Linked DNA regions of Homo sapiens. The protein of the gene in region 7 purifies or fractionates together with the protein of the main gene of each other region. This does not show direct contact. Each region holds a gene or a part of one and is shown on either strand. Other genes may lie near its edges.

The links.
Region 1: the proteins of MTX1 (region 7) and ACKR3 purify together in Homo sapiens (co-immunoprecipitation; one large-scale study listed by IntAct). This does not show direct contact.
Region 2: the proteins of MTX1 (region 7) and NECAB1 fractionate together in Homo sapiens (co-fractionation; one large-scale study listed by BioGRID). This does not show direct contact.
Region 3: the proteins of MTX1 (region 7) and PLXNA4 fractionate together in Homo sapiens (co-fractionation; one large-scale study listed by BioGRID). This does not show direct contact.
Region 4: the proteins of MTX1 (region 7) and VSIG1 purify together in Homo sapiens (co-immunoprecipitation; one large-scale study listed by IntAct). This does not show direct contact.
Region 5: the proteins of MTX1 (region 7) and SPTAN1 fractionate together in Homo sapiens (co-fractionation; one large-scale study listed by BioGRID). This does not show direct contact.
Region 6: the proteins of MTX1 (region 7) and GHITM purify together in Homo sapiens (affinity purification with mass spectrometry; 2 studies listed by BioGRID and IntAct, with this or other methods). This does not show direct contact.

What each region holds. Positions count from the first base shown.
Region 1 is NC_000002.12:236,572,825-236,576,324, forward strand, and holds part of ACKR3 (atypical chemokine receptor 3), read left to right. Parts: intron 1-3,500. UniProt on the Homo sapiens protein: Atypical chemokine receptor that controls chemokine levels and localization via high-affinity chemokine binding that is uncoupled from classic ligand-driven signal transduction cascades, resulting instead in chemokine sequestration, degradation, or transcytosis.
Region 2 is NC_000008.11:90,798,275-90,801,774, reverse strand, and holds part of NECAB1 (N-terminal EF-hand calcium-binding protein 1), read right to left. Parts: intron 85-3,500; coding exon 60-84; intron 1-59.
Region 3 is NC_000007.14:132,503,471-132,506,970, forward strand, and holds part of PLXNA4 (plexin-A4 isoform 1 precursor), read right to left. Parts: intron 1-3,500. UniProt on the Homo sapiens protein: Coreceptor for SEMA3A. Necessary for signaling by class 3 semaphorins and subsequent remodeling of the cytoskeleton. Plays a role in axon guidance in the developing nervous system. Class 3 semaphorins bind to a complex composed of a neuropilin and a plexin.
Region 4 is NC_000023.11:108,051,565-108,055,064, reverse strand, and holds part of VSIG1 (V-set and immunoglobulin domain-containing protein 1 isoform 2 precursor), read right to left. Parts: intron 1-3,500.
Region 5 is NC_000009.12:128,580,087-128,583,586, forward strand, and holds part of SPTAN1 (spectrin alpha chain, non-erythrocytic 1), read left to right. Parts: intron 1-835; coding exon 836-973; intron 974-1,695; coding exon 1,696-1,806; intron 1,807-2,392; coding exon 2,393-2,470; intron 2,471-2,607; coding exon 2,608-2,763; intron 2,764-2,990; coding exon 2,991-3,195; intron 3,196-3,500. UniProt on the Homo sapiens protein: Fodrin, which seems to be involved in secretion, interacts with calmodulin in a calcium-dependent manner and is thus candidate for the calcium-dependent movement of the cytoskeleton at the membrane.
Region 6 is NC_000010.11:84,149,509-84,151,788, reverse strand, and holds part of GHITM (growth hormone-inducible transmembrane protein), read right to left. Parts: intron 1,735-2,280; coding exon 1,546-1,734; intron 1,081-1,545; coding exon 909-1,080; intron 1-908. UniProt on the Homo sapiens protein: Plays an important role in maintenance of mitochondrial morphology and in mediating either calcium or potassium/proton antiport. Mediates proton-dependent calcium efflux from mitochondrion.
Region 7 is NC_000001.11:155,211,695-155,214,323, reverse strand, and holds the end of MTX1 (metaxin-1), read right to left. Parts: intron 2,198-2,629; coding exon 2,105-2,197; intron 1,940-2,104; coding exon 1,757-1,939; intron 1,631-1,756; coding exon 1,554-1,630; intron 1,088-1,553; coding exon 933-1,087; intron 841-932; coding exon 626-840; 3' UTR 501-625; downstream 1-500. UniProt on the Homo sapiens protein: Involved in transport of proteins into the mitochondrion. Essential for embryonic development.

The DNA.
Region 1 (3,500 bases), on a different chromosome or scaffold from region 7:
GACGAGGGTGTCCCACGTGTTCATGTGAAGTATGTCTAAGGACCCTGGGAAGAGGTGGACTGTATCTGAATCAGGATATAGAGTTTTCTGTAGTTATTATTTTTTGCGTTCTCAAGTAATTCAAAGCAGTTATGTACTTGCATAAAATAAGATCACTCACGGTCACTAGTGAATGTGTAGTCAAGACTGTTTTCCATTTGCTGGCAGCAGAGGGGACAGACAGCTACCCATTCTGCTATCAGCCCTAGCAGATAGTCACAGAGAGTCTGCCTGGGCCAAAGCTCCCCTAGGTTACTTGGTTGGTTTCCCCATAGATTCGATGTAGCATTGGTTAAAAACACACAGACACACAGACACACACACATGCACACACACACACACCCCACTCAATGATGCGCAGTTGCCTAATGGTTCTTCAGAGGTAGTGTGGATTCTCCTGATCTAACTTGCAGGCTCAGCGTAAGCGGGGCTGGCCTGGTGGAAGAGGTGTTATCTGCTCAAGGAGACCAGAGCGTTTGCTTTTGTAGCATGATTCCCGCTGGAGAGTCCCTGGAGATGTTGGAAAGGGGAAGAGAACTCTGTTCTTAGCCACAAGCGCACCATAACCCAGTCTCTTCACCCGGCCTGGCCTCAGTTTCCAGGTGTGCAAACAGTGAGGGCCACTGTCCCAGCTCTTGTCTGGGACAATACCAAGTTTCTTCATGAAATTCCCTTGTAGGACACAGGTCTCACACTGCAGAAAGCCAGTGAAGGAGGCAGAAGTCCTGCAGGGCCCAGATGGCCAGAGGGTCCCCCTTTTCGGAGCTGGTCCCGGGGCCCCAGGCCTGGCCTGAGTTATCTTATCTATACCACTGTAGAGGAGTGATGTGTGTGTAGCAGCCTGGTCTGCACCCAGCTACCAGACCACCCCACTGCAAAGCTGCCTGTGGGGTTCGTATCACTTCCATTCTCAAAGCCTCCTCTGCTCCAAAGCCATGGCCTTGCTCTAGACTGTCCTGGCTCCTGCATGGACAAGCCCTGGTCATATTCCTTGCCCACCCTTTAAGGCCCAACTCTTACCTCCATTTGCTCTTCGTGGAGAGTCCTTGCCTCAGCCAGGCTGGGTGACTCTACCCATGGCTGTGCCTTCCTGGAACATCCTTGATCACCCCTACCTCCTTGAAGTCCCCCATAAGCCACCAGAGTAGAAACCCCTCATTTTCCTGCTGAAGGGGCATGCACCACCTTGCTCATGCCTGGGGGGTGATGGGCCTGCGTGCCTTCCCAATTAGCCGGCGGGGTCTCGGGGGTTGGGGGGAGATGTTTCTGATTTGTTGTCCTCACGTGCCCCAGAGCAGTGCCTCCTGGAACAAGAGGCTCAGTCCGTCAACACCAGCTCGGTGACGATTTCAGAAAAGTCTCTCCTGGACGCCCGTCTCCGCTGCTGGCCACAGTCGCTGGTCTTGGTGGGGCACGATTAACTGCTGGCTCATTGAGTACCTACTATGTGCAGCTGTAGCTGTATAGCTGTATAGCTGTAGCTACACAAAGTTACAGAAGACTTGGTGGGGGGTGCGGGGCCTGGTAGGAATGAGGTGGAGGGGCAAGAAACCTGAACAACGTGATGGTACAAAAGCCATTCCAGAATAGAGATGTGCAGTGTGGGGCCAGGAGAAGGTGGGAGAATCAGAAGGGCAGAGGGCATCAGTTGGGAAGAGTCTGTGGTTGGAGACTGCAAACATGTGGAAGGGAGTTTGGAGGGACACTGGCCAGGTGCCTGAACACGTGGCATTCTCTGGAAGGAACTAACCAGCGTGAGGACATGCTGATTGCATACTCAGCCACCACCCATGAAGGCTCTAAACCTGAGTACCTGTAATTCCGGCTTCACCCTCAGCTTGCAGAGTGAGCTCAGGGAGACCATTTGGATGTGGCTAAATACCCCAGGCTGCTTGCTGCAGCACGGTCGTTGTCAAGGATACTTGGTTGATGAATAAAACATCCCAGAAACGAGAGGTGCATCTCCGAGAAAGTCCTGCAATTGACAAGAGGAGCCCCAGTACCATCTGGGCTGTGAGTGACAGAGGAGTCCCTTTGCAGGCCATAGGCTGGCAGGGATGGAGGGCTGGACAGGTGCTTGCCCACCGCCGGCCACGGGAAAGTTCTCTCCCTGTCACTGCAACGTGCGACAGGGCCGCTAAAAAGGTGACCCCTGTACGAAGGAATGAATGAGATAAAACAGAGCAAGCGCTGGGAAAAAGGGAATGAAAGCTGACGTTCACTGCTTTTTGTTCTCCCTTGGGTCTCTGTGGTCCAGGAAAATGCAACATGAACCTCGATTGTTCTGTGGACCATTCCTCCCTCTATGAAAATTTACATAATTCTTGATGTCAAATTTCAAATAACACAGAAGTTTATAGAGTAAAAACTACAAGTCTCCTTTTGTTCCCTCCTCCTACCTTCCCAGCCCCAAGTTTTATACTTACTGCAGGTCTTTTTCTATGCCTTCGTGCACATGTATTTACATATAAAAATACACAAATGTAATTTTTGTGTTTCTTTCTGCATAGCTGGGGTTGTGCTGTGTGTGCGTGTGTCTGGGGTTGTGCTGTGTGTGTGTGTGTGTCTGGGGTTGTGCTGTGTGTGCGTGTGTCTGGGGTTGTGCTGTGTGTGCGTGTGTCTGGGGTTGTGCTGTGTGTGTGTGTGTCTGGGGTTGTGCTGTGTGTGCGTGTGTCTGGGGTTGTGCTGTGTGTGTGTGTGTGTCTGGGGTTGTGCTGTGTGTGCGTGTGTCTGGGGTTGTGCTCTGTGTGTGTGTGTGTCTGGGGTTGTGCTGTGTGTGCGTGTCTGGGGTTGTGCTGTGTGTGCGTTTCTGGGGTTGTGCTGTGTGTGCGTGTGTCTGCGTATTGTCTTTCACTGAACAGCATGTCGTAACTCTCCCTGTGCATGAAGGGAGGCCTCCCTCTCACAGCTGTATTATATTCCAGATGGCGGAGACACCAGGCTTTACTGAGTCGTGCCTTTGTTGAAAGACATTTACGTTGTCTCCAGTGTTTGCTCGTAAATAAATACTGCTTTAAAAAACATCTTGTGTACATTTGGAGACACATGAATATTTTGAGGAGAGAAACGTATGAATTTGTATCATCATAGAACTGGAAAGAAACGTCTTTTGTTCTGCACCCCCTCCCCTTCCTTCCCCCTGGAATCTTTTATGCAGAAACCTTAGAACCTAAGTGTCAGAAGTGGGTCTCATTCCCCTGCCTGCCCTGGCATGGGCACTGAGGCCCTAGAGACGCAGGCAGTGGGCAGGTTTGATTCACACCCAGACATGTTTCTTAGACCCTGGCCTCAAGCGGGAATGGAATTGCTGGTTGATTCCAGCAGAGGGTGACTGGTCTAAGTGGATGTCTCCTTCAGGCCCTGTGGCTATCGGCCTTCCCAACTTCCCAGCGTAAACAGACCCCGCACAGGCTGAGAGGCATTAAGAATGTATACAAGGACCCGAGGGCTGGCCCATCCAG
Region 2 (3,500 bases), on a different chromosome or scaffold from region 7:
ATAAGGTAATATAAAATGTAAGAGATTAATAAATAGATACTGTAGATTTTTGGTCTTACCATTTTTGTCTGCTCTCCTCAGTATCTGGAAAGGAAAAAGGAAAAAATTTTATCAGCATTTTAGATAAATATTGCAACGAACGTTACACTTACACATAATTTATTCATAATTAAATAAAATACATTCTAATTTTAAGTAAGCGTTTCCCAATTGAGATCTTTCTTTATAATATCTAAAACCTGAAAATGACCCAAATGTCCATGGATAAACAAACCGTGAATGAACAAACCAACTGTGGTATAGCCATACAATAGAATACTACTGAGCAATAAAAATGAATGAGCTATTTATACACACAACAACTTGGATAGAACCAAAAATAACTAGGCTGAGTAGAAAACCTAGATGCAAAATAATACCTACTTATAATTCCATTTATATAAAATTCTTAAAAATGCAAACTAATCTATAGGGACAGAAAACAGATTAAGCTTCCTAGGAATGGGCAGGGCAGGGGAGGGTGGATTACAAGAGGATGTAAGAAAACTTTTGCAGGTGATAGAGATAGTTATTATCTTGAATGTGGTAATGGTTTCATATATGTTAAAACTCATCAAGTTTACACTTTACATATGTGCACATTAATGTAAGTCAATCATACCTCAATAAAACTGGGATTCAACAAAACATAAAAGAAAAATAATACATCATGGGTAAAGAGTAACCACATGTCTATGCTATATCTACTTTATTTATACTTTATTAATCATATTATCTTGGACGTATTTTAAATTGTCTTGATGTATAAGAACTATTTGGCCATCCGGTATCCATTACTCTTTAGTAATGATTTCTAATGTTCTTCTGGAAAGCCTACATTTCCTACATGCTTGGCCTAGGTGCTCCAGTGTTGGGCAGGGCACTTATGTCTGACAAACACGGTGTCATATCCCTCTGGTCACGGTGACTGCTCAGGGATGAGCACATTAGGGCCAGTGAATGACAGGTCATGGTTTTGCCTGAGTGGTTAGGAGAGAGACATACTCTTCTTTCTGCTGACTTTGAACCTAGGAATATATAGGCAATGCACTGCTGTCATTCGTTTTGTTATTGGATATATTGTAGGTTGAATTGTGTCCTCCAAAACCAAATGTTGAAATCCTAATGCTCAGTATCCACGAATGTAACTTTATCTGGAAATAGGGGTTTGGGAGGAAAAGACTTTGATAAAATCCAACCTTCCTTCATGATAAAAACTCTGAACAAACTAGGCATTGAAGGAACATACCTCAAAATAATAAGAGCCATCTATGCCAAACCCACAGCCAACATCACACTAAACAGGCAAAAGCTGGAAGCATCTCCTTGAATGCTAGAACTAGAACTGGAACTGGAACAAGACAAGGACGCCCACTCTCACCACTCCTATTCAACATAGTACTGGAAGTCCTTGCCAGAGCAATCAGGCAAGAGAAAGAAATAAAAGGCATCCAAATAGCAAAATAAGAAGCCAAATGGTCTCTCTTCACTGACGATATAATCTTATACCTAGAAAACTCAAAGACTCCACCAAAAGCCTCCTGGGACTGATAAACGACTTCAATAAAGTTTCAGGATATAAAATAAAGGTACAAAACTCAGTAGCATATCTATGCAGCAATAGCATTCAATCTGAGAGACAAATCAAGAATGCAATCCCATTTACAATAGCTACACAAAAAATAAAATACCTAGGAATACATTTAACCAAAGAAGTGAAAGACTTCCACAAGGAGAACTACAAAACACTGCTGAAAGAAATCATAGATGACAGAAACAAATGGGGAAACATTCCATGCTCAAGAATTGGAAGAATCAATATTGTTAAAATGGCCATACTACCCAAAGCAATGTATACATTCAATACTATTCCTATCAAACTACCAATGTCATTTTTTACAGAATTAGAAAAAACTGTTCTAAAATTCATATGGAACCAAAATGGAGCCTGAATAGCCAAAGCAATTCTAAACAAAAAGAACAAAGCTGGAAGCATCACATTACTTGACTTCAAACTATACAGTAAGGCTACAGTAGACAAAACAGCATGGTACTGGTACAAAAAACAGATACAAAAATGAAACAGAATAGAGAACCCAGCAATAAAGCTGTACACTTACAGCCAGCTGATCTTCAACAAAATCAACAAAAATAAATAATGGGGAAAGGATTCCCTATTCAATAAATGGTGCTGGGATAGCTAGTAGGTCATATGCAGAAGAATGAAACTGGAGCACTATCTAATACTATAGACAAAAATTAACTCAAGATGGATTAAAAATTTCGATATAAGACCTCACACTATAAAAATCCTATAAGAAAACCTAGAAAATATCATTCTTGACATTGAGAAAAAATTGGCCTTGAGAAAAAAGTTATAACTAAGTTCTCAAAAGGAATTGCAACAAAAACAAAAATTGACAAGTGGGACCTAATTAAACTAAAGAGCTGGAGCACAGGAAAATGAACTATCAACAGAGTAAACAGAGAATCTAAAGAATGGGAGAAAATATTCACCAACTATGTATTCAACATATTACTAATATACAGAATCTGTAAAAATTATATTTCAAAAAACAAAAAAGAACCCCATTAAGAAGTGGGCAAAAGACATGAACAGACACTTCTCAAAAGAAGACATACAAGTGGCCAACAAACATACGAAAAAATGCTCAACATCACTAATCATCAGAGAAATGCAAATCAAAACCACAATATGCTATCATCTCACACCAGTCAGAATGGCTATTATCAGAAAGTCAAAAAAAACACAACCACATTCTGGAGCTGCTGCAGAGAAAAGGGAATGCCTATATACAGTTGGTGGGGATGTAAATTAGTCTAGCCTATGGAAAGCAGTTTGGAGATTTCTCAGAGAACTTAAAACAGAACTACCATTTGACTCTGCAATCCCGTTACTGAGTATATATTCAAAAGTAAATAAATCATTGTACCAAAAAGACACATGGCACTCGTATATTCATTGCAGCATTATTCACAATAGCAAAAATACTAAATCAACTTAAGTGCCCATCAGTGGTCAATTGGATAAAGAAAATGTGGTACATATACATCATGGAATACTACACAGCCATAAAAAAGAACAAGATAATGTCCTTTGCAGTGACATGGATGCAACTGGAGGCCATTATCCTGAGTGAATTAATGCAGAAGCAGAAAACCAAACACTGCATATTCTCACTTATAAGTGGGAGCTAAACATTGGGTACACATGAACATAAAGATGGCAGCAACATACACTGGGGACTAATAGAGGGAAGAGGGAGGTTGGGGAGAAGAGTTGAAACACTAACTGTTGAGTATTATGCTCACTACCTGGGTGATGGAATCATTTGTACCCCAAATCTCGCCATCATGTGATACACCCACGTAACAAACCTGCACATATTCCTCCTGAATCTAAAATAAAACTTTAAGTTATAAAAAGAAAAGAAATAGGG
Region 3 (3,500 bases), on a different chromosome or scaffold from region 7:
GCCAGCTGCCCACTCCAAGTCAGGAGTGTCAGGTCCCCCCCAGAGAAGGACAGACAGCCATCACCTTCTCCTGCATAAGGTCCTGGCACATGACAGAGGCCACAGGTGTGGGCTCCCCAGCCTTACTGTCTGTCACATGCTCTGCAGACAGGGGGCCTCAGGGAGCCTGGATGGCAGCCTTCAAAAGGGGCTGGGGATAGAGATGCACCAGTGATAAGCCACAGAAACTGAGAAATGAAATCACTGCCATTCCCCACATGAGTGCTCATTAGCAAATCAGTCTCAGCTTGACCTCTAGTCCCCTGAGTCCCAAGACAATTGGGGCTCTGACAGACCCTCTAGGACCCCCCCTCATACCCATGTCCTCATGAGATCCTCAGAGTTACTTTCAGATACTAACCCACTTGTTCTGGGAGACCTCTTTCCACCCAGGCTGGAGAAAGCCAGGACAGGGGTAAAGCATGGCTCAGAGGGTGAAGGCGGAAGCTGCTGTTCCCACCCTCCACTGACACCAGAAAGCCCCAGCTGCTTCCCTAGCCTCCACACTTGGTGCCCACTCAGGAATGTACATTTGTGACAGGTTCGTTTATGTCCACAGCAACACATTCCCATGAGGAGGCCACTCCTGGCCAACCAGCCCTCATCTCCAATGGGAGCACAGCCGGCCTTCCCTGATTCACCTGAAGTTGAGGTACAGCTGAGCTCTCTGGGGGCTGCAGGTCAGCAGGTTCTACCCCAACGGCCCAAGACTTTTCCCTCTGTGCGGTCCTCAGGCTCTGGCCTGCCCAGTGCTCTGTGGATGCTCCCTGGCACAAGGGGCCTTGTAGTAGGGGTTCTTCTTCCCATTCCTTCCTATCCCCCAAATGAACACAGCCAAAGCAGGTGCTGGGACCTTGTGAAGGAGGCAGGTGGCCCAGGAGTTTTGCGGATCCCGGCTCTGAGTTCTGGAGGTGTGAGTTCAGGGGGAAGAATGTGGGTCTCAGGATGTGGAAAGGGCTAGAAAAGCCTGAAGAGCCCCATGGGAGGAGCATTCTAATTTAGAGAGCTGGTACAGCCTGGAGCACAGTTGACATTCATTGCTACTCAAATCCCTTCTTCAAGCTTTTAGAGTTGTAACTATGATAAAACCCACAGGGGACCCCTTACCCTACAAAATACAAGTCCTAAAAGCCAACCTCCTGGGCCTTGCCCTGCCCTCTGTCATCTTCCTACAACAGAAACACCACAGGACAGAGGTCATCTGGGACTGAGTTCTCAATTCACAGGGCTCAAGGGAGTGTCAGACTCCGTGACAAGAGAGATCTCCAGAGTTCATCTTGTTCATCCTCCACCTCTAGGCAGGAAGGGAACAAGAAAACCAACCCAACAGCCTTGTAAATGAGTTGAGGAAGAGCTGGGTTTGCAAATGGTGCCATCGGGGCAACACAGAGCCTGGCCTGGCCGATGTCGCACGAAACACGTGTGGTCTGAGCCGACTCCAAAGGAATCGTAACAGGAGGGTGGGAGCAAAGGAACTCGGGTATCTGCCAAATCAAAGGAAACTGATACTGTGCATTAAACACCAGCCTGGCCTTTTTCAGACTGGCTGGAGAGACAGCCCCAGGCCTGTGCAGAGTTTCTGGCCTCCTCCTTTCTACTCTCGGCCCTGAACTTGCCTGTAACTTGAAAGGGCTAATTAAAGCCAAAAGAAAAATCAAAAGCTTGTTATCTTGCTCCATTACTCCCCGTCCCGGCATTAGCCTGTCTTGCAAAGCTGTTTTCCCTCTATTCTCTCCAAGGCTACCACACGGTGTTAGGACCTGCAGCTCTGCAGACTTCCATGATGAACTTGGCTTTTTGTATTGTGGCAGGAAGCAACGGCAGCACGAACACTTGCCCATGGGCAGCCAGACGGACGCCTGCAGCTGATTTTTCTCCCAAGAGCATCGCCCAAAAAGTCAGGGTTTTAAGAAAGTTTTCTACAGGAAACTGTCAGAGATTGCCAACTCCTCTGGTCTCAAAAGAACTTGTTGTTGTTTAGTAAGTGCACAGTATAAACTTGCCGTCTTCTAACATAGGCCTGCATATGTGTGCATGCTCGTGGGGAATTTATTACATGTATGCATGTATGGGTGTCCTGCAGGCAAGGGGGATTCTCTTCAATTGGTGGCTCTGTTACTCACTCCTAAGATGTGTGACCTTGGGCAATTCATTCAGCTTGCTGAGTCTTGAGATACTCAATGCAAAATGAATTTTTAGGCCAAGGCTCTCTAAAGGCCTTCTCAACACCAACATTCTAATACATCTCACCACAGACCCATGTTTGAGTGTCTAATAGACATGTCCAGAACAGCCTCTGTCATTAGCTGCCTTCGTTTGGAAGCAGTCCATACCCCCGTAAGTTCACAGACCTGTCTCATGGACTCTCTTAAGTGGCTCCACTACTGCCCCAAACAAAGGGCTCCAGGGGCATTCCCAAAGGTTGTCACCTGCTAGGAAGACTCAGTAGATAAAGTGGAGTCCCCTCCATTCTCCAGTCTGGCTCTGATTTGTCAACTTTTTGCTGCCCTGCTTGGTCCATAGCACCTCTCCTATTTCCTTTGTGACATCAGGGAACTCCTGGATTTTCAAGACCTCCAAGAAGAGACGACATCTCTTAGTTTCAGCTGGCCCAGTGCCTGGAAGACTTGACAGTGGAAAACAGCTTAAGCCTAATGCCAGGGCACCATCTTTCTCCTCCCTCTTCCCTATCTCCAACCCAAATCCCAAAGACCAGAGTGATGGCCTCTCCACACTCTGGCTGGGGAGGGTGCCAGTCCCCACTGAGATCTGCCTGGCACATAGTTATACTTTATGAAAGGAAATTTACACTTTTTTAAACAACCAAAATACATTTCCTAATATGGAACTCCACCAAAGTTTAAGGAGTCAAGAATCACATCAGTATGGATGCGTACTTCTGTCCAATGGATACATTTTCCTTTCTTCTTCTCCCCAAATTAAAATTAGAGAATTGATGTTCTCAGACTAGGTTCATAATCTTTAAAATGCACAGTTATAAAAGGAAAAGGACAAGAACACTGAAGATGCTGATAGCTGAGCCTTCCAAGTCACCCAAAGAATGATAGTGAAAAAGCAGGACCATTGTGAAGAGGAACAGAGTCAAGCCACAAGAAGGGGGATGCTTTTCATGGTGGGGCACACGTGAGCTAGGCTGTGACAGGCAGGAGTCTGTGTCCCCTGCTTCACCTGGGGTAACCCAGCAAGGCCATACCCACCAGCCATGCGAAGACCCCTAAGCCAACCCTTCTCCTGCTCTCCCTCTGGCTCCCCACAGCTCTCCCATCATCCCATGCTGCTCTCCGGCTGCTTCCTGACTTTCTCACATGTCTCTTCCAAGGCACTGTGCACACAGAAGATGCTCAATAAACACAATTTGTCCCTTCCCATCCCTTTTCTAAGTTAGCTTTGCTTTCTCTATGTGTTCACTGCACTCTTACCTGACTGTGCTCTCATTTTAG
Region 4 (3,500 bases), on a different chromosome or scaffold from region 7:
TAGAAGTTTGTCAGTTTTACTGATTTTTTTTTCAGAAAAGCAAATTTTTGTGTTATTAATTTTTCCCTATAGTTTTTCTATTTCAAATTCATTGATTTCAGCTCTTTATTATTCCCTTCCTTCTGCTTGCTTTGGGTTTATTTTGGTCTTCTTTTCTAGATCCTTGATGTAGAAATTTAGGTTATTGACTTAAGACCTTCCTTTATTTCCAATGTAAACATTTAGTGTTAGAAATTTCTCTCTCAGAATTGCTTTATCTACATGGTACATATTTCAATATGTTGTGTTTTCATTTGCATTCAGTTCTACGCATTTTTAAAAAAATTCCTTTTGAGATTTCCTCTTTGATCCACGGATTATTTAGAACAGTGTTGTTTAATTTCCACGTGTTTAGATACTTTTCTGCTACAGATTTCTAGTTTCATTGCATTGTAGTCAGAGAATATACTCTGTATGATTTCAATTATTTTAAATTTGTTTAGGTTTGTTTTACGGCCAAGCACATTATCTATCTTGGTGAATGTTCTGTAGGTGCCAAAAAAAAGTGTGTTCTGCTGTTGTTGGGTGGAGTTTTCTATACAAAGAGATATAATTTAAAACCACTATGGAAAAACCAATATAAAATCGTAAAAATATTCAACTGGATCCTGTTAATTGACTGTCTTTTTCAGATCTTCCCTATATTTACTGATGTTCTGTCTAGTAGATTTATCAATTTCTGAGAGGGGGTATTGAATTTCCCAACTATAATTGTGGATTTGTCTCTTTCTTCTTTTAGCTTGATCAGTTTTTGTTCATGAATTTTGAGACATAGTTGTTTGGTGTGTACCCATTAAGGATCATTGTATCCTCCTGCTGGATTGATCCATTTATCATTAGGTAATGTCTCTGTTTATCTCTTTTAACTTTCTTTGCTCTGAAGACTATTTTATCAGATATTAATGAAGCTTCTCCAGATTTTTGAAAAATTAATACTTATGTGGTACATCTTTTTCTATATTTTTACTTGCAATCTTCCTATGTCATCAAATTTAATGTGAGTTTCTTGTGAATAGCATATAGAGTAGTTCCCCCTTATTCCAGGGAGATATATTCCAAGACCCCCAGTGGATGCCTGAAACCATGGATAGTACTGAACTCTATGTATACTATATATATTTTTCCCCCATACACACAAACCTATGATAAAGTTTAATTTATAAATTAGGCACAGTAAGAGATTAACAATGATAACTACTAATAAATAGAACAATTATACCAATGTACTGGAGTAAAAATTATGTGATTGTGTTCACACACTCACACTCTTTCTCACAAAATATCTTATTATACTGTACTATGGGTAACTGAAACCTCAGAAAGTAAAACCACAGATAAAAGGGGACTACTGTAGTGGTATTCGCATTCAATATAATTATTTAATGTAATTATTGATATATTATTCTTGTTTGCTATTTTATTATTTGTTTTTTGTTTGTTCCCTTTAGTTCTTATTCTTCTGTTTCCCTTTTCTTGCTTTTCTGATAGTTACTTGAGCATTTTTTATGATTCCATCTTGACTTATTCATAGTGTTTTAAAATATATATCTTTGTAGAGTTTTCCCAGTGGTTTCTCTGGGTATTCAACATTCATGTGTGAGTCATAACAGTCTACTCATATCAATATTTTACCACTTTGATTGAAGTGTATAAACCTCACTTCCATTTAGTTTCCTTTACCTTCCCCACTTTTAAATATCATTGTCTAGAGTATAAAATGGTGTTATAATTTTGCTTCAATTATCAAATATGATTTATAGAACTCATGAGTTAAAAGATAGTCTACTTTATGTACTTACATTTCTGCTCTTTCTGTTGTCCTTTCATCCTTCCTGATTGCTCTTTATCATTTATTCTCTGTTTGAAGAAATCCCTTTAGCTATTTTTTAACAGTATGTCTGCTAGCAACAAATCTTTTTGTTTTCCTTCAACTGAGAATTTAATTATTTCCCCTTAATTCCTGAAGGATAGTTTCACCAGATATGGATTCTATTTTCTGTCATCTCTGCTCTTCTATTGAGTCCATCAGCCAGTTTTTCATTTTTGTTATTTTATTTTACAGTTCTATAATTTATATTTGTTTTTTGGGGGGAGGGGACAAACAAGCCAGTTTTATTCAAAAAATAATTCCAAGGGGGAAAAAAGAAAACTGAGAAAGAGCCTATAGATTGTAAGGGTCTTTAGAAAAATAGTAGATAATTGCAAAGTATGTATTTTTTAAATTCTTGTTTTTAACTTAATTTTTATTTTAATTAATTAACAAATAATTATTGCATATATTTATGGGATACAATGTGATATTTTAATATATGCATACACTGTGGAATAATTACATCGAGCTAATTAACATATCCATCACCTCACGTAATTTATCCTTTTTTTTGTTTTTTGTTCTGTTTTGTTTTGTTTTCAGACAGGGTCTCACTCTGTCACCCAGGTTGGAGTGCAGTAGTGTGATCTCGGCTCACGGCAACCTCTGCCTCCCAGGCTTAAGCAATTCTCCCATCTCAGCATCCCGAGTAGCTAGGACCACAGGCACATGCCACCATGCCCAGCTAATTTTGTGTGTGTGTGTGTGTGTGTATTTTTGGTAGAAATAGGGTTTCACCACGTGGCCCAGGCTCTTCTCGAAATCCTGAGCTCAAGTGATCCACCTTCCTTGGCCTCCCAAAGTGGCGGGATTACAGGCATGAGCCACCACATCTGGCCTACCTATCTTTTGTTTCGTTTTGTTTTTTTCATAGCAGGAACATTTAAAATCTATTATTTTTTTGAATACTTTTTTGGGGAACAGGTGATGTTTGGTTACGTGGATAAGTTCATTAGTGGTGATTTCTGAGATTTTGGTGCCCCCATTACCCGAACAGTGTACACTGTACCCAATGTGTAGACTAAAATCTTATGCTTTTAGCAGTTTTGAAATGCACATACATTATTATCAACTATGGTGAGCATGCTGCAAAATAGGTCTTAAAAACTTATTCCTCTTGTCTAACTGGAACTTTGTACCCTTTGGTCAACTTCTCCCCATTTCCCACTCCCTCCAAGCCACAGTCCCTGGTAACCATTCTACTCTAATTCTGAGTTCAACTCTTTTAGATCTCACATATAAGTGAGATTATGTGGTGTTTGTCTTTCTGTGTCTGGCTTGCTTCACTTAGCATAATGTCCCCCAGGTTCATTCATGCTGTAGCAAATGACAGAATTTCCTTCTTTCTTATATTTTTATAACTTCTTTTTCTTTTCTGCAAGTTTCCTTTTTTTTCTTTATTTGTTTTAAGATAATGTTAATTGATTGTTGAGGCATTTTTATGATGGCTACTTTGAAATCCTTGTCAGATAATTCCAACATCGAACTCATCTTAATGTTGGCAGTAGTTGCCTTTTCTCAGTCAAGTTGTGATTTACTTGATTCTTGGTATGACAGATGATTTTTGATTGAACATTTTGTCTACTATGTT
Region 5 (3,500 bases), on a different chromosome or scaffold from region 7:
AGGATTGCTTGAGGCCAGGAATGGGAGACCATCCTGAACAACATAGTGAGACCCCCATCTGGACAAAAAATTAATAAATTAGCCAGACATGGTGGCACATTCCTATAGTCCGAGCTACTTGAGTTCAAGGTTATAATGAGTTATGATTTGCACCACTGCACTCTGGCTTGAGTGACAGAGTGAGACCCTGTCTCTAAAAAAAAATAAATAAATAAAAATAAAATATGTATATATATACATATTTTATTTTACTTTTTTTATATGTGTATATATATACACATATGTATATAAGTTTTGAAGTATCTTCGAGTATAAAATTGCCTAGGAACATTAGATAAATAATGATTTATATGATTTATATGTTTTTTAGTATTACATAGAGTAAAGACATTTCAAAGACTTGTCATTAGTAGCTTCGGAGCCTAAAGTCTAGGGAGTTTCTGAATTTATTTTCCATATGTTATGGAGCACCCACTCAGTTGACATTTCTTAGTGGAGAGTCCCTACTCCATTTATACTCCATTAAACTCCATTTATACTGCCTCACTTTTAAATGGATGCCCTATTTCTTCTACCTGGGAGTTTACTTACTGTTTTTACCTAAAGTCATTTGTGATCATTTGGCAATAAATTAATTCTAGATTAATTAAAACAGGCCATCCCTTTTATATTGAACATGCACATACAAGTGAATGTTGTTTTTCCCCTTTTGCAAATCGGAAAAAAGGCCTGAAGATTAGCACTAGGATTAGGAATTCCAGGATAGCTGTTCTGTCTGCCTCGGAGGCATTGGGGCTGACCTCATCTCCCTGACCATGTCTCCTATGCCCCCAAGCTGACCGTCCTTTCCGAGGAGAGAGCGGCGCTGCTGGAGCTGTGGGAGCTGCGCAGGCAGCAGTACGAGCAGTGCATGGACCTGCAGCTCTTCTACCGGGACACTGAGCAGGTGGACAACTGGATGAGCAAGCAGGAGGTAATCTGTGAGCAAAGCCTTGCCAGTGGTGGGAGAAGAAGGGCCTGTGTTTTGCCTCCTCGGGTAGTGTGCTTGTTTTGTTTTAGGACATCAGTACCATGTTAGTTCTGAATCCATTGAAGAGGGGGAATTGAGCAAGCTTCTCTCAGCTCTGCCAGCATCTCTCCCTGCTGAGATTGCAAGGCCTTCAGAAAAGGCCCCAGCTTTTCAGATTAGTGTGATGTAAAATGTTTTATTAAAGAGATTTTTTTCTTAGAACTTAGCATTGCTGGGTGCAGTGGCTCCCTGCTGTAATCCCAGCACTTTGGGAGGCTGAGATGGGAGTATCCCTTGAGCCCAGGAGCTCAAGGCTGCAGCAAGCTATGATCGTACCACCGCACTCTAGCCTGTGCAACAGACCGAGATCCTGTCTCACAAAAAAAAAAAAAACAAACAAAAAAAACAAACCTTAGCATTATGTAACATCTGAATCTAATAGAAGCAACAAAAACTATGTAAGAGAAGTTTCAATAGAATGTGGAATAGGATTTCATGATATGGCTGGATTGATTTTAAGAAAATCCAAAAGGACTTTAGACTTCCTAGAAGAGATCTTAGAAGTTTAGCAGCCATAAAATCTCTTTCCTTCTTTTTATATTTTGGCCAAAATACCCTTTGCTTCACAGTCTTAGAAGATCAAAGGAATAGGACATTATTCTGAACACTTTGTTTCCTTTGGCAAGGCGTTCCTGTTGAATGAAGACTTGGGAGATTCCTTGGATAGTGTGGAAGCGCTTCTTAAGAAGCACGAAGACTTTGAGAAATCCCTTAGTGCCCAGGAGGAAAAGATTACAGTAAGACCCCTTCTTGTCAGTGCTTTCAAATGACCCTTATAGTAAGCCAGAGTCTTTTTCCCTGGAAGGATTCCAAACAGATTTGATGAAAGATTCATATGCAGAGTACTCCTGTGGGTGCTTAAACTTTCACAAGGATGACATGCTATCTCGTTGAAGACATAATACAACTTTATGGAAAAATGATTTACTTAATGGAAACCTCCAAACTTCTTTAAGTTTGTACCCTTCATTAAAAGTAGGTCAGGGTTAATATTAAGAGGTACTCTTCCCATTGAAAATACATCTTAGAAATAAGAATTTGGAAAGCTGTTAACCTGTGTTTGACCCCTGCCAGGAGATCGTGCCACAACTAATGTCTCCAGTCTTGAATGGAGGTAGTGCAGTCTTATGATATCTGACTGGTGACATCAAGCAAAATCTCAAAAGTTATGAGAAAAAATGTCATCACCAACCTTTGGGTGAAAACCTTGACCTATGTTAAAGTTTGGTGTGTTTTATGATCTGTTCAGCAGTTACTTTTCTCCAGAGGCCAAGCTTGGGACTAGTGTGCTTACCAATGAAGAACTCTTATCTTCCTTCCTAGGCATTAGATGAATTTGCAACCAAGCTAATTCAGAACAACCACTATGCAATGGAAGATGTGGCCACTCGCCGAGATGCTGTAAGTTTGTAGGTTCTTCATGCTCCTCCTTTTTGGTACATGAATGTCTCTTCTAAGATGTTCCAGTTAAGTCTCTTCAACTGGATATCCCTTTGGGAGTGAACACTAGAGACTCACAGGGGATCCTTGTCTTTCAGCTGTTGAGCCGCCGCAATGCCCTTCACGAGAGAGCCATGCGTCGCCGGGCCCAGCTAGCCGATTCTTTCCATCTGCAGCAGTTTTTCCGTGATTCTGATGAGCTCAAGAGTTGGGTCAATGAGAAGATGAAAACTGCCACAGATGAAGCTTATAAAGTAATGTACTGTTAGTGTTGCCATGTAGCACTCGATTAGTAAGCTAAACACAGCTCTCACAAATAAATTGTAGCTAAAGGACGAAATAAGGGATTCCAGAAACCCCACTACTTAATGTAAGCCAACTGTTTTATACATTCCTCCATAAAGATAAGTATGAAGGTAGTGCAAGGGAACTTGACGTTCTCAGGTTCAAGATAGAAAGAACCCCCTTCTTTTATTCACAGGATCCATCCAACCTACAAGGAAAAGTACAGAAGCATCAGGCTTTTGAGGCTGAGCTCTCAGCAAACCAGAGCCGAATTGATGCCTTGGAGAAAGCTGGCCAAAAGCTGATTGATGTCAACCACTATGCCAAGGATGAAGTGGCAGCTCGTATGAATGAGGTGATCAGTTTGTGGAAGAAACTGCTAGAGGCCACTGAACTGAAAGGTAAGAGATGTTCCATTGAATTGTGACATGCATGTTTGGGGAACTAAATACCCCTTTCTATTAAGTATTTTAGGGACATATACCCCCCAAGAAAGGTGAGGTGGATGACTTTGGCGTTAGGGATAATTTCCTGTGTAGGAATTACTTGGCTTAAGTTCTTGATAATAATTTGGTAAATGTGGTCGAGCATACTGGTTGGTGAGGGAGTCTGAGTGAGAAGGAACTGAATTGGGCCTCATTGCTGAAAATCAAAGTTCAGCTGAGAGCCAAGGGCATTTACTAATTCTCCAGTGTCCTTATATCTC
Region 6 (2,280 bases), on a different chromosome or scaffold from region 7:
TCAAATTACTTTAAAAAAATGTGACAGACACAATGAAACTCAAGAAAATTGTTTAAATAAAATAACCCACTTTGGTCGACTCCAAGAAAAAAGAAAAAAACATAATAACAATTAATACCAACTAAAGTTGCATATCTCTGAAACTAGACTCTTTATACTGAAGAGTTTCTAATTTCTAGAAGTATAAAATAGGCTTTTCTATTAAAAATTCCATGTCAATTATATACATTTTCCAATAAATAATACTTGATTAATACATTTCTTCAGTTTTAAAGTCTGCAAAATACACTACCAAAAAAATTAACTGAGCAGTAAGAGCACATTATTTATTGCACCCTGACACTGGCTCACAAAAATAGACAAAATATTCTGATAATGGAATGAATACCTAAGTATTACACTAAGTTGCAATAAAATCAAGAGGTTTTTTTGGATAGTTTACTAAAGAGAGAACAGACAAAACTGCAACAGAAGTAAAACAGGAAATCTGACAAAGCCATTGGTGTGGTTTGAGCTGTGACCCTCCTCTGCCCCCCAACAAAATATAATGAAATCCTAATCCCTGGTACACAGGAAGAGCACCATGTGAAGATGGAGACAGAGACTGGAATGATCCATCTACAAGCCAAGGAATGTCAAGGACTGCCAGCAGTAACAAGAAGCTGAGAGGCAGGGAACAGATTTTCCCTCAGGGCCCTCAGAAGTACAACTCTGCTAACACCTTGATTTTAGATTTCTGGCCTCCAGAACTACAAGAGAATCAAGTTTTGTTTTAAGCCACCCAGTCTGCGATACTTTGTTAACAGTATCCCTAGAAAACTAATACAGCCATAAACCAAAACAGGTCAAATACACACAAGCATCCTTATGTGACAGAGTAACAGTGTTAAATAAAAAGCATTACTTACGAGTTAATGGGATCATATTTTTGAACTCCATACATTGGTGATACTTCTGCACGCTTGATTACTTTCTGGGTATCATACAGAAGGAACATGCTGAAAAGAACTAATCCACCGTACATTGCCACTGAGTAAAGAGTGGCACCAGCCACGGTGGTAGGTGGAAGAAACATAGATCCTGAAATCAAAATGCGAAAACAAGATTTTTTTTAAAAAAGGATTTCCGATAACTGAGTTTATGATTTATATTACTTAAAAAAAAATCTCCTTGGTATACTGTGTAGGTAAGACGACATCTGGGTACATGTACTGTCTAATCTTATTTGCATTAGTTCAAAATCCATGATACTCATTCCTCCAATGAGCCACTTGCCCATTTCACAGGAAGGTTCTTGCATCAGAGCAATATTCATGTTCTCCAGACCAACTTTCCCATTTTAGATGTGTTTGGTAAAGCCAGTAATAATGGTTGACCATGTTGCCATGATTTTTATATGATGTCAGGTAGTAAAATCCAGTCAAATTAGCATAAATCTTTAAAAAAACTTTTAAAATAAATGACTCAATCAATTAGGATATTGGAGTATTTCAGGTTACAGGAAACTATGCACCAAGAATTAAGTGTTAAAACACAGCAGCTTACCCAATGAGGACACAAAGACGAGACCCAGGCCCACTCCCAGGGGTGCACCCATGTTCAGAAACTTTTCACTGGGCGCACACATGGCCACAGTGGAGAGGCCTCCCACAATGCCAGCTGTGTACCATGCAGCTCTGATGAGAAGAGGACCCCCTAATATTGTCAGAGGAGCCACCACTGCACCCATCACACCTGGAGAAAGAGGAAGTGCTCATTAAGTATTTACTAAATAACAAGCAAAAGGAAAATATCACTTCTAACATGCCACTTTATATTATACCTTACTGTTTAAGCACTATGATTCAAAAAGTTCTGCCTTTAGATAATACTACCCCCACCAAATTCTACAGCCCAAATTGGTGACTACTCAAATTCTATATCACAACATTAACACTATTCCTAATCAATCACACTCACAAGCAAACACTAATCTACTTATTTAGTAACCATCAAATTCCATGTAGCTATTTGAATCTGAGCTTACCACTAGTTTCTACAACATTCATATAATAATTGAGATAAACAAGCTTAAAACAAATAACTCAAGGTCAAACCTACTGCTGTCAAAAGGGAAAGCATATGATGATAAACTTAAAATGTGGGAACTTCTAAGACAGACACTGCTGTTTCTTTATGTAATAAGGACTGCTAACAGCTTATAAATAAGTAATTTTAGTTGTCAGATATTTATAAACAATTTCGTAAAAAATTTACCAGTAATTCAACAAAGGTAAATGG
Region 7 (2,629 bases):
AAGGGACAGAGTCAGCTCACACGCTGTCTGTGACTAAAGAGGGCACAGCAGGGCCAGTGTGAGCTTACAGCGACGTAAGCCCAGGGGCAATGGTTTGGGTGACTCACTTTCCCCTCTAGGTGGTGCCAGGGGCTGGAGGCCCCTAGAAAAAGATCAGTAAGCCCCAGTGTCCCCCCAGCCCCCATGCTTATGTGAACATGCGCTGTGTGCTGCTTGCTTTGGAAACTGGGCCTGGGTCCAGGCCTAGGGTGAGCTCACTGTCCGTACAAACACAAGATCAGGGCTGAGGGTAAGGAAAAGAAGAGACTAGGAAAGCTGGGCCCAAAACTGGAGACTGTTTGTCTTTCCTGGAGATGCAGAACTGGGCCCGTGGAGCAGCAGTGTCAGCATCAGGGCGGAAGCCTTAAAGCAGCAGCGGGTGTGCCCAGGCACCCAGATGATTCCTATGGCACCAGCCAGGAAAAATGGCAGCTCTTAAAGGAGAAAATGTTTGAGCCCAGTCAGTGTGAGTGGCTTTATTCTGGGTGGCAGCACCCCGTGTCCGGCTGTACCAACAACGAGGAGGCACGGGGGCCTCTGGAATGCATGAGAGTAGAAAAACCAGTCTTGGGAGCGTGAGGACAAATCATTCCTCTTCATCCTCCTCAGCCATGCCCAGGGTCCGGGTGCCTGGGGCCCGAGCAGGCGTTGCCCGCTGGATGGAGACAATGCCGCTGAGCAAGGCGTAGCCCACCATGGCTGCCAGTCCTGCCAGCACAGATAGGATCTGGTTCCGGCGCCGGTATGGCTCCTCCTCAGTCTCTGGGCCTGCTGGTGTCTGGCGTTGCGGTGGTACCTCAGCTGAGGGTCAAGGAAGGAAGGTGTGTTAGGAGAACTAGTTCTTGGATCCCTGCCCACTCTCCCCAGGGCTGCCCCTCCCATCTGCCCCTTACCTCCATCCCAGGGGAAGTAGAGACTGAGAATGTGGGTACAATAGGCACAGAGGTTGTGCAGCCCACGCAGGTGGACCTGCAGCTTCCCACTGGGCAGCTTTGCCTGCAGCAGCAGGGCCAAGTAGCTGAAGACGAAGGCGTCCAAGGAGGCAGGGCTGGAGCAGAGAGAGAAGGGTGGGATGGAGGAGAACCACTGGGGTAGAAGGGGTAAAGATGGAGCTGGAGGAAGAGTCAGCCTTGGGAGGTGGGCTCTGGGCAGCAGGCGGCCACCAGGGAAGGACAGGACACACAGTTCTAGACCTGGTATGGGGAGAGATCCCCAGGTGGCGCCAGCCTGGCCCTGAATAGGGCTCTATCCCAGGGCTGCATAAAGGGCACATTCAGTGCCCCACAGCTCTTCAGGCCCCTCCTGTGCCTGGCTGCCCTCCCACCCTACCCTTTTGTACCTCTGAGAAGGCTCTGGCCCCCACACAGTCACACTGTCACTAGGGCCAGTTTCTATCCCAGGGACCTCCTATCCAGAGCCTGAGCCAGCCCCAGCCCCAGCCCCAGCTCCAGCTGCTCCATCTGAACCTGTATCTTCTTCCAAGCCACCCATTACCCTCTTGGAGTCAGACTCACGCATCTCCAAAGAAGAACTTTTGAGAGCCCAGGCGCTGAGAGAGCAGGGTCAGACACTCCCGAGCCTCTCGGTACAGCTGTAGGGGCGACACAGGTAGGCTTGCAGCTGTGGGAACAGTGCCACCTCCCCACCTAAGCACTCCCATTCCTGGCCAGCATCCTTGGGGCTCATCTCATACAATAGCCCCCGGTCTCAGAGCTACCTCCTTCTCCAGCTCTTCCTCGTCCTCAGGCCTGTGCTCCCCAGTCAGCAGCTGTAGCCGTTCCATGTACTGCCGCTGCATGCGGCCAGGCAGGAAGAAGTTGAGGGGAAAGGGCATAGCCTCTGCATACCACTTCCGGGTCACTTCCACGTAGTTCTTGGTGTCTATCCAAAAAGTATGTACCTGGATTGGGTGGGCAGGAAGAAACAGGTAGGTCTGAGCCAGTGCACCTGTCTGATTCAAGGTGGGCTTCTGACCCCCATGCTTTCCTGAGCCTGTGTGTGGGTCTGTGTGTTCCCGAACCCTCCCCGGCTGGCCATGGATGCTGGGAGGTCTGGGCACACTCACCAGCACCGGGAGCAACTTCTCCTCCAGGAGAGACATGAAGGCCAGGGTGTCTGCCCCTTGCCGAGCTGACAGATCATAATCAGCATTGTACTTCTGTGGAGGAAATATCCATGGCGTGGACACTAGGGAGCTGCAAGGGCACTTCACCAGGGAGGAAGGAGTCCTGTCTGGTACCCCCCTCACTGGCCTCTGAGTGCAGTGGAGGTACAGCAAGGAACTTTTCCTGCCAAGGCCCCCTTGCCTGGGCCCAGCCAGTAGCCTGTTGCTGTTGGCGAAAAGCCTGGGCCTTGGAGCCTCCTGGCCGTGAAGGTCCAGCGCCCAATGCAGGGAAGGAAGGAAGGCTCCGCCGCAAACTAGGAGCAGCTCCCAGAATTTCCATGGAAAGCTGGAACAACGCCCGCTGACGGCAACTTTCTAACAGTAACTTCCCCGACCCAGACACCACAAAGCTAGCACAACGGAGCTCAGATGCAGGCTAGGACTCGGTCCATGCCTCAGGAACCAGAGAAAGCCATCCTCACACTC